3 linked regions of the Homo sapiens genome follow. The protein of the gene in region 3 purifies or fractionates together with the protein of the main gene of each other region. This does not show direct contact. Each region holds a gene or a part of one and is shown on either strand. Other genes may lie near its edges.

Evidence for each region.
Region 1: the proteins of RNASE3 (region 3) and RNH1 purify together in Homo sapiens (affinity purification with mass spectrometry; 2 studies listed by BioGRID and IntAct, with this or other methods). This does not show direct contact.
Region 2: the proteins of RNASE3 (region 3) and POTEI purify together in Homo sapiens (affinity purification with mass spectrometry; 2 studies listed by BioGRID and IntAct, with this or other methods). This does not show direct contact.

What each region holds. Positions count from the first base shown.
Region 1 is NC_000011.10:493,922-497,300, reverse strand, and holds the end of RNH1 (ribonuclease inhibitor), read left to right. Parts: intron 1-2,247; coding exon 2,248-2,418; intron 2,419-2,522; coding exon 2,523-2,610; 3' UTR 2,611-2,786; downstream 2,787-3,379. UniProt on the Homo sapiens protein: Ribonuclease inhibitor which inhibits RNASE1, RNASE2 and angiogenin (ANG). May play a role in redox homeostasis. Required to inhibit the cytotoxic tRNA ribonuclease activity of ANG in the cytoplasm in absence of stress.
Region 2 is NC_000002.12:130,507,169-130,510,919, forward strand, and holds the start of POTEI (POTE ankyrin domain family member I), read right to left. Parts: upstream 2,161-3,751; 5' UTR 2,068-2,160; coding exon 1,547-2,067; intron 1-1,546.
Region 3 is NC_000014.9:20,889,079-20,892,829, reverse strand, and holds RNASE3 (eosinophil cationic protein precursor), read right to left. Parts: upstream 1,446-3,751; 5' UTR 1,379-1,445; intron 1,149-1,378; 5' UTR 1,144-1,148; coding exon 661-1,143; 3' UTR 482-660; downstream 1-481.

The sequences.
Region 1 (3,379 bases), on a different chromosome or scaffold from region 3:
GCAAGAATGAGCACGAGTGTCCGTGTGTGAGCACATGGGCGAGAGTGAGCATGAGTGTCCGTGTGTGAGCACATGGGCGAGAGTACGTGAGCACATGGGTGAGAGTGAGCACGAGTGTCCGTGTGTGAGCACATGGGTGAGAGTGAGCATGAGTGTCCATGTGAGTGTGAGCACATGGGCGAGTGAGCACGTGAGTGTGGCACATGGGCGAGAGTGAGCACGAGTGTCCATGTGAGTGTGAGCACATGGGCGAGAGTGAGGGTGCATGTTCATGTACTGGGAAAGGCGGGCTGGCGGCACCACTCTGGCTTAGTTCTCATTTTAACTCTGAAAGTCAGAGGTCATGTTTCATGAAGCCTGAGAGCTTCACGGAGCTCCAGCCTACCTGGCCACCCTGTGGTCCATCTTCCTGGAAGCCCCGCCCACCTTTCTCCCTTGCGGGAACCCCGCCTGTGTCAGGATGTTTTTCCAGATTTGTTTTCTTTGTTAAAGCACGTTCTTTTGCAGCTTTCTAAGAAAAGGTTTTGCAGGAGGTAATTTTTGGGGTCTTGTGCCCCTGTTCTGTCCTTGGATCATTTAGCCGGGTATAGCATGCACCATTATGCCCGGCTAATTTTATTTTGTTTGTTTTTTTGAGAGAGTCTTGCTCTGTCGCCCAGGCTGGAGTGCAGTGGTGCGATCTTGGCTCACTGCAAGCTCCGCCTCCCAAGTTCATGCCATTCTCCTGTCTCAACCTCCCGAGTAGCTGGGACCACAGGCGCCCGTCACCACACCAGGCTAATTTTTTGTACTTTTAGTAGAGATGGGGTTTCACCGTGTTAGCCAGTATGGTCTTGATATCCTGACCTCGTGATCCGCCTGCCTCGGCCTCCTAAATTGCTGGGATTACAGGCGTGAGCCACCACGCCTGGCCTAATTTTTGTATTTTTAGTAGAGATGGGGTTTCACCATGTTGGGCAGGCTGGTCTTGAACTATTGACCTCAAGTGATGAGCCTGCCTCAGCCTCCCAAAGTGCTGCGATTACAGGCGTGAGCCACTGTGACCTTGTGTGCACGATCTGCTTTTTCTCGTTGGCAGCTTTTCAAGCTCTCTTTGTTCACTGTGTTAGGGGTTCCATGTGCTTGGCCTTGATGGGGGTCTTGGTTCTTTGTGCTGGATACTTGGTTCTACTAAGAAAATATACCTTTGGTGATTTTTTTCTCTCTCCTTTCTTATGTTTCTTTTTTGGTGTGCCCATGAGCCTGTCCTGATGTCTTGTGGAGTGACCCTCTAATTATGTTCTCCAAATTTTCTTTTCGATGTTTTGTTTTATTTTTGGGAGATGTTCTCATTTACCAGCCAGTCTACTGAATTTCCACCCTCAGTGTTTTGTCTTTTGTTTGCTGTTTCCCGTGTGCCTCTCGCCAGGGGCTTTCCGTGGGTGGCTGGTCATCCTGGGCTGGGCACCAGGTGCAGAGTGAGGCCCGGGAGCCCTGGACAGTGAGCCCTGCAGGCCGAGTCATGGCTGCGTTTCTCGAGGGCTTCCTCCTGATGGGGGATTTTCAGTTCCCTGCCAGGGGACACCATCCTGGCTGCCAGGACCTTGTGGGTGTTCCAGATGTGGAGAGGAACCTTGGGTCCTGGTCACTGCAGACTTGTTCCCCCTGAGCCACTCACAGGGTGGGGGTCCTGCAGCTTCCCTGGCCCCCACCTTGGAGAGGTCCAGTGCAACTCCTTGGCCCTGCTGTCCGGCCTGTGGCGGCTCCACCCCGGGAAGTGGGTGTTGGGTCTTCTCTATCCCATCCTCTTTTGTCTGACCCGTTCTCTTGTCTCTCTCTGGAGCCTAAAGTCTGTTGTCCACTCTGTTCTTGTCTTGGTACCCTCCATACCCTCGTTTCCCCACAGCTGCTCCTCAGTCTCTGGCTGGCTTCTCCTTTGAAGCCCACGCAGCCAGACGGTGTCGAGGTGACAAGGGGGTGGGTGTGGCTCTCTGGGTGGACGACATCTCTCTCCTGTCCTTTCTCCTCCCTGCAGAAGATCTCAGGCGAGTGAGGCTGCTTGTGCCTCGCTTGTCTGTGCCTTCCTTGTCCGTGGTGGGGAACCTGCCCAGGGCCACAGGGACGGTGAGCCTTGGGGACGGCCCCACCTGAGGGTCCTGAGTTGCCGAGCACAGGTGTCCGTCGCGCCCCCCAGGCCCAGGCCTGCTCTGCCGGTCAGTGCGGTGCCAGGCACGCCCGGCACCCTGACCCCCGCCCTGCTTCACCCAGGTTGGCCGACTGCGATGTGAGTGACAGCAGCTGCAGCAGCCTCGCCGCAACCCTGTTGGCCAACCACAGCCTGCGTGAGCTGGACCTCAGCAACAACTGCCTGGGGGACGCCGGCATCCTGCAGCTGGTGGAGAGCGTCCGGCAGCCGGGCTGCCTCCTGGAGCAGCTGGTGTATGTGCACGCGCTGGGCGGGTGGTGCGGCCAGGGCTGCCCAGGGAGGAAGGCGGGGGTGGGGGAGGACACGGGCCCATGCCTCCCTTCTGGCCTGTGTGCAGCCTGTACGACATTTACTGGTCTGAGGAGATGGAGGACCGGCTGCAGGCCCTGGAGAAGGACAAGCCATCCCTGAGGGTCATCTCCTGAGGCTCTTCCTGCTGCTGCTCTCCCTGGACGACCGGCCTCGAGGCAACCCTGGGGCCCACCAGCCCCTGCCATGCTCTCACCCTGCATATCCTAGGTTTGAAGAGAAACGCTCAGATCCGCTTATTTCTGCCAGTATATTTTGGACACTTTATAATCATTAAAGCACTTTCTTGGCAGGAGAGGCTCTTGTCCTTCCTGGGGTCCTTGCGAGGCGCTGGCATTGGAGACGACACCACCCCACTTGGCTTCTCTCCCTGCCTAAGGGACCCCGCACCAGGGAAGCAGCCCAAGGCCCTGGCTGTGCTCAGCTGGGTCCCCTGAGCTGCACCCACCCACACTGGGGAGCACAGGGCAGGCCCTGCCCAGGGTGGAGGGATGCCCCTTGGCTCTGTTGCCCGTGCAGGGTGACGCCTGCTGGGAGCTGCCTGCAGGCCCAGCTGCTCCCGCAGCTTCCACCCCGGAGCCTCAGGAGCCCCCAGCACTGCCCTGACTGCCCCCCAGCCCAGCCCAGCCCAGCCCAGCCCAGCCCAGCCCAGCCCAGCGCGGCCCAGCGCGGCCCGGGTTCCTGCCCGGAGCCCAGTGCTCGCCCCAGCTCTGTGTGGGATGATGGGGCAGCCCATCTTGCCCACGGGTGGACAGCTGACCAAGGTGGGCCAGCCCGGGGTGCCCTGCCCTGCCAAGCCAAGAGGGGGACGCTCACCAGCTTTCAAAGGTCCGATGCTGAGTCAGCAACTACAAGTTCATTGCAAAGAAGCTGCCTGGCAATCCC
Region 2 (3,751 bases), on a different chromosome or scaffold from region 3:
GCAGAGAATTGCTTGAACCTAGGAGGCAGAGGTTGCAGTGAGCCGAGATCACACCACTGCACTCCAGCTTGGGCTACAGAGTGAGACTCCACCAAAAAAAAAAGGATATATATATATATATATATATATATATATATATATATATATATACACACACACACACACACACATATATATGTATATATATACACACACATATATATGTATATATACATATGTATATATATGTATATATGTGTATATATATGTATATATATATATATCTGCGTATATAAATAGGCATTTATATTTTTTCTGGTATGTTTCTCCTTTTGTATGTTTAAAATTTTTAATCTATACTCTTATTTTTGTGACATAAAAATCTAGCTAGTTTTCTCCAAAAATGAATTATGAACAATCCATCTTTTTTAAATAATACAAAACATCACCATTATCAAGTGCTAAATTCTTACATATATTTGGGTATTTCTAAATTTCCTATTCTGTTCTATTCATTGATGTCTTTTCAGCTGTTAGTAAACAATTTGTGGAAATAAATAACACATGCACATTTTGATATCTGGAAAAGCAAGCCTTTTTCCATTCTGTTACAAAAAATTAATTTATCACAATAATAAAAGACAGCATGTGTAATTTAAAAACGCTAAAACTTTGCTATTTTTATTTGGCTTATGTAAAAGTGATAAATAGAAAAAGCTCACATCTTTTTTTTTTTTTTTTTTTTTGAGACGGAATCTCGCTCTGTCTCCCAGGCTGGAGTGCGGTGGCACTATCTTGGCTCACTGCAAGCTCCGCCTCCCGAGTTCACGCCATTCTCCTGCCTCAGCCTCCTGAGTAGCTGGGACTACAGGCACCTGCCACCGTGCCCGGCTAATTTTTTTTATAATTTTTAGTAGAGACAGGGTTTCACCGTGTTAGCCAGGATGGTCTCGATCTCCTGACCTCGTGATCCGCCCGCCTCCCCAAAGTGCTGGGATTACAGGCATGAGCCACCGCGCCCAGCCAAAAAGCTCACATCTTAAGAAAATTCAATCTTCCTATTCAAGCACAGGAACCATCTTCCCATTTCAGTTTCCTTCTAAGGTTCCTCAGTAAAGAACGTATTTACATAGGGTACATTGATATAAAATCCATACTGGATTTTATTTGAAGAATATTTAGCCCTGAAGTTGATGTGTTATGGGGCTTCATTCTTAGTTCTCAATATACACTTTTCTATAATGTATAGAACATTGTTTTAAAATCTGTAGATTAAAAATAATCTGCTGCATTGACTTAATTAATTTTGCAAGTTAAATCACTTTAAAACAGTCTATTAGTGTTCTACGAGGGAAATTATAATTTGATTGGAAATCAGCTAAAGTTTTTTTTGTGTGTGTTGCTGTTCATAAAGGGGCCTGTGCCCTGACCTCTCTGAGGTTTCCACAACCAGGGTGCTGTGAGGCCTGCGGAGGTGAGAAAGCCAGGTCCCCCTCCTCCCCCGCCAGGAGGGTATGTCCCCATCATCCCCCGACCTCCCACCTCCTCCCAGCCCAGGCCTGGTTACCTCTTTTGCTTGTCCTGCTTGTTCACGTCAGTGTCCCTGAGCATGACGATCAGATCCTTTCTGGCGACTTTACCCCACCAGGCAGCTCTGTGGAGCTTGTCCAGATCTTCTCGACGGACGTGGTATCTCGGCTCCACGAAGGCGCTGTCGTCGTAGTCTCCCCAAGCACCCACGTTGCTCTTGCCGCTCCCCCTGCAGCAGGGGAAGCAGTGGCAGCACCACTTGCCCATCTTGCTCCTGAGCGTCTTCATAGCGGAGTCGTCGTGGTCTCCAGAAGTGCCCACGTTGCTCTTGCCACTCCCCCTGCAGCAGGGGAAGCAGTGGCAGCACCACTTGCCCATCTTGCTCCTGAGTGTCTTCATAGTGGAGTCGTCCTGGTCTCCAGAAGTGCCCACGTTGCTCTTGCCGCTCCCCCTGCAGCAGGGGAAGCAGTGGCGGCACCACTTGCCCATCTTGCTCCTGAGAACAAATGGCTTCTTCACAGAAGAGGCAGCCGGCATTGAATCAACCTCAGCTACCATCTGCTTTTAACAGCCTGGGGAGGCCGGTAGTAGCGAGCAGATCACGTCTACCAACCAGTTTCACCAACTAGCAGGTAACTCCGGGTTTCCAATCTGTTTGAAGAGAAAAGTCAATCCCAGCCAAAACCTGCCAACCCCAGCAGGTAAGCCCAACCCACCCCACCCAGGGAAAACCCACACCCACCCGGGGAAAGCCCACGCCCACCCGAGGAAGGGCCAACCCCCCCCCCCAAGAAAACACCCAGCCCACCCAAGGGAATGCCAAACCCAGCAGAGAAAAGGTCAAGCCTAGCAAGGGAACGCGAGAGAGGAAACGCCAATCCAAGGAGGAAACGTCAATCCAAGGAGGAACACCAGGCCAAGCGACCAACACCAAGCCAAGCAAAGAACGCAAAGCCAAGCCAAGCCGCTACAGGCCAGCCAAGCAGTTACCCGCGTGCAGCATGCGCGTGCAAGCCGTTACAGGCCAGCCAAGCCATTACGCGCGTGCGGCGTGCGCGTGCAAGCCGTTACAGGCCAGCCAAACCGCTATGCGCGTGTGGCGTGCGCGTGCAAGCCATTACAAGCCAGCCAAGCCGCTGCCGCGTGCGCGTGCGGCGTGCGCGTGCGGCGTGCAGCGTGTGCATCTCAGGTGGCGTCAGTGCATGTGGCACAGACAGTGGCCAATGCGTGCAACCGCGTGTTTAAATCTTGGCGCCACGAATGTCACCGACAGCCTTATGTTCCTGGCAAACTTCATGGGACTCAGCTGAGCTTTCAGGCCATTGAGAAGCCTCTGGTGAAAAAAAAGCCTCTTGAAGCAGGACTGGGGCTAAGCGGCTGGAACTTGAGGATGCTGACAGCCTCCTCTGAAGAAAGCCCCCAGGACACTCCTGGCGGTGCTGTTGTGCGTGGCAGCGTCTGCAGCTCGGAGCTGGGGCTGGAGGAGCTGGCTGCAAATGGCCTCAAAATCCCGGAGCACAAGATGCCCACTGAGCCCAGCGCCTGCCTGAGGTGCCTTTGACACCTGGTCCTCTTTGCTCTGCACCCAGAACACGAGGCCATCAGCGAGGGGGCATTTGGGGCCACAGGATCGCGGCCAGCTCCTGCCCCGGTGCCCCCTGCCCGGTGTCCAAGCCAGGGCCAACAGCTATAGGGCTTCTGGCCTGGGGGGCTCTGCTCCACTGGCATGCAATAGGGTCAAGGTGCAGACCGCTGTGTCCACGCCGGCAAGAGGGGGCTTGGAGGAGCAGTCACAGGACAGTACTCTCCCCTCCTGTGGATGACTCCTTCCTGCCCTTTCCTCTCTCTGCTAAAGCCTCCAACGTTCTCTGTCCCATCCATATGCTCCACTTATGCCCCTGCTTTTGCTTTGATTTTCTCATTAAAATAAATCTGCAGGCTGGCTGGGTGCAGTGGCTCATGCCTGTAATCCCAGCACTTTGGGAGACCGAGGCAGGTGGATCACCTGAGGTCGGGAGTTCGAGACCAGCCTGACCAACATGGAGAAACCTTGTCTCTACTAAAAATACAAAATTAGCCAGGCGTGGTGGTGCACGCCTGTAATCCCAGCTACTTGGGAGGCTGAGGCAGGAGAATCGCTTGATCCCGAGAGGCGGAGGTTGCGGTGAGCCAAGATACTGCCATTGCACTCCAGCCTGGGCAACAAGAGCAAAAGTCCATCTCATAAATAAATAAATAAATA
Region 3 (3,751 bases):
TATCATAACGTTCAATTCTATCAAAATTTATCATTCATAAATCATAATGAAGCACGTGCATTTTCAGCTGATTCACTGCAGCTCTTTTTTTCTTGGGATAGAAATCATGTCAATAAAAACCATAGTCGGACCATAAAGCATCAAATGGGACCTCAATATCAAATTGGGCTCAATTCTGGAATACAACTAAAACAAGTGGAGATCTATACACAAGTTATAGGTTGGTGTTGGGGGAGGAGTCAGTGGATGGAAAATTGCTTAGAGGAGATATTAAGGCTAGGGAGACCAATGCTAAGTTGACTCAATTGGATTTTTTTTTAAGGCAGGCCTGGAATCAGGTATCACATGAAGGATGATGGGGGAATTAAGGAATTTGGTCAGATATTGAGGGGGAGAGATTCATGATAAACCCAAATCTCTAGAGCAGATTGTCACTAAATGACAGCAGAGCGGCCGAGGAAGACACACAGACACTTCCAGATGAATTTGCAAAGCAGTTTATTGCAGGGTTCACAAGGGACTTCAGCTCAGGAAAGCTGAAGGGGTATGGAGACTGATGAGGACAGTTGCTGATACCCAGAGTACATGGAGGGATGGGATCTTGGCTATGATTGAGGAGCTTGGCAGATGAGTGATGATGAGGACTGCTGATACAGGAGCTTAGATGGTGGTATCCAGGTGAACTGGAACCACAGGATACCGTGGAGAATCCCGTGGATCTCTGTTGTCACATGCAACTACATAGAACCTCCTTCCTGGTCTGTCTGCATACGTGCAGTTTGAAATATTCTGTGCACCTGGATTTATGAGGTCACAGTGGAGTAAAGGCACCCGGAATCTACTCCGATGACAATTGTTGAGAGTTCTGTTATGAGGGCAGCGTATACTTTGGTTACCACAAACATTAACTACATTAGCAAAAGTTGTACGAAGAAAAGTATTTTGGTTTTTGCAACGCCATCGATAATTGTTAATTGCCCGCATTGCAATGGTGCATCGAGGGGGGTTCAGACTGATGTGCTGGATGGCAAACCACTGAGCCCTCGTAAACTGTGGGGGTCTGGCATGGAGTGAGCCCTCCACACCCATAAGCCCCAACAGAAGAAGCAGACAAATTTGGGAAGTGAACAGTTTTGGAACCATGTTTCCTGTAAGAAAAGAAGAGAAGTAACTACTCCCCGATCCGGTCTCGGTTATGACACACTCTATAGTGTCTCAACCCACAGGCCCCTCTGCTGCCACTCTGGGGTCGCATTTCCTTTTCTTCCTGTCCCCAAAGTGTGCCACATCTCCTAAGCACTAACTTCAGCTCACCTCTCCCTCAGGTGCTGCCCTGTCGCTGCCCCTCCTGTCCCAGCTCTGGGGATTGTTGACTTACCCAGTCTCTGAGCTGTGGCTCCTGTGAGAACTGATCCAGCTGGTTGTTCTGGGGTTCAGGGGCAGCTGGTCTCCCCTACTTGGAACTGTTTAAATAAAGCTTCCCTTGGTGGGTCTGGCCATGCAGAAACCCACAGATTGACACATGGTCCACTTGTGCAATCATCCTTTTTATTTGATGACTTGGCTGAGCAACGGATACCCAAGGACAGCCCTGCTGCTCTTTCTGCTATACGGACTCTAATTCCAAGTCATCCTGTGTTAGACAGAGTTTTGCCGGTGGGATCTGGACTCTGGGTGAAAACTATACGCTGCCGGCAGAATGACCACAGATTTTATAACTGTCCTCTGGCAGGCCCCTAAATGACTAAATGACACGAAGGCAGGCATAGTAGTTAGGAGAAATAGAGCCACAGAGGGCTGTTTGCCCAGGAGAAACCCAGCTTCCCTTCCATTTTTAGTAATATCCTTGGTTCTCTCTCACATAAATGCTCTCCATCTCATCCACCACTCTTGCTGGAAACTTGAGCTATTAATTTCTTGGGGCACAAGATTCTGTAGATAATTAAAACAATCTGCTCCATACAATTGAGGAATTTTTTTCTTTACTCCTCTTGCATTGGATCCACTTTCTCTTAAGTCTTGCCCTGATTATTGATTCCACTTTGTGTAAAGTTACATAACCTAAAAACACACCGAGGACAGTTGTAAAATCTGGCAGAGGATGAATGAACATTTGGTGTCATGAAAGATTCCAACCTAGCACTCGGTATTCCTGTGATCTTTTCAGCCTATGGTATTTTCTACAAAACAGTGTGTTCTGGGGTTGTCATTCATCTTCCTGGTAAGTTTCATTTTGTGATATTAACAAGAATATGGTTCTGTATTTACAAATGAACATTTAAGGACAGAGCACTGTATTCCTGAAAGTATAGAGGTCAAGTGTACAGTTTGATACACAAAGCATACATTTATTCTTGGCCCTCAGAGAAACACAGGAAAGTACTTGTAGACATATAATTGTATTACAGTGTGATAGAGGTAATAGCATTTGTGTGAACATGGTGTCATAGGGACACTGCTGGTGAAGGAAATCACTTGGCTTGAGAAATAAGGAAAACTTCAAAAAAAAGTTTATTTCAGCAGGTCCTAAAGGATAAGCAGGGGATTTTCAGGGGATTTAGAGAAGAGATGAGCATTCTGGGCACAGGGGATGATGTGGGGAAATTGTACAGAGGTGAGAAGTGAATTGCAAAGGTAAGGCCTGGGTACTAACAGATGTTAAATCTGGTCTAGCTTTGAGATTAGAAAATGGAAAGTAGACCCTTAAATGATATAATATACCTTCCAACAGTTAATCTGCCTAATTTTTACTACCGTCCAATTTTCCTGTCATTTAGAAATGCAATAATTTTATCACTGGGGTCCTTAGGTAAATGTGGACACAATGGTGACCTGGTGAGGACTCAATGCGCAGCTAATATTGCTCTGCCTTGAAGTCCTGTTCTGGCCGACATTCATTAGCAGCTTTATCATGAGGCAAGTTTATTTTTTCATGTATATTGTGTGGAGATCATTTTTGTAGGTGATGAGAATGTAAAGGTGAATGATACGTAGAGTATCCCCTCTGTGATGCTGACAGCCACACTGGCTAGAAACATTTGCACTTAAGTGTCTATAGTATGAGGCAAAAGACATAGACTGCAGCCCCAGGGCAGGTACTTGGCTAAACAGTGCTTCTTTTCAGCATACACAGTGCTATTTATGATGTTTGGTTTGGAAGATAAAGTTTGACATTGGAATAGTTCACTAAAAGTTTTCATTACTGTCTTATCTTTAAAAATCACATGATGGTGGTTGGTGCACCATTGGTGTTGTATCAATTAGAGCTGAGTAACAGCTGCGTCTGTGGAAGGGGCTCTAGCTCAGGGCTGTTCTCTGACTCCACTCTCCCTCCTGACTTTTATCCTATCTGTTCAGTGATGACACCTGCCTGGCTCCTGAAGACATCTGTGCTTATGACATATCAGACTTATTGAAGTGTCTTAAGCAGACCATAACCTGCCCAATTTGCAACCATATTCATCCTTTAAAATTGTGGAGTTTTTTGTTTTTTGTTTTTTTTTGAGACGGAGTCTTGCTCTTGTCACCCAGGCTGGACTGCAGTGGCGTGATCTCACTGCAACCTCCACCTCCGCCTCCCAAGTTCAAGTGATTCTCCTGCCTCAGCCTCCTGAGTAGCTGGGATTACAGGCGCTCGACACAATGCCCGCCTAATTTTTGTATTTTTAGTAGAGACGGGGTTTCACCATGTTGGCCAGGCTGGTCTCAAACTCCTGACCTCAGGTAATGCGCCCACCTCGGCCTTCCAAAG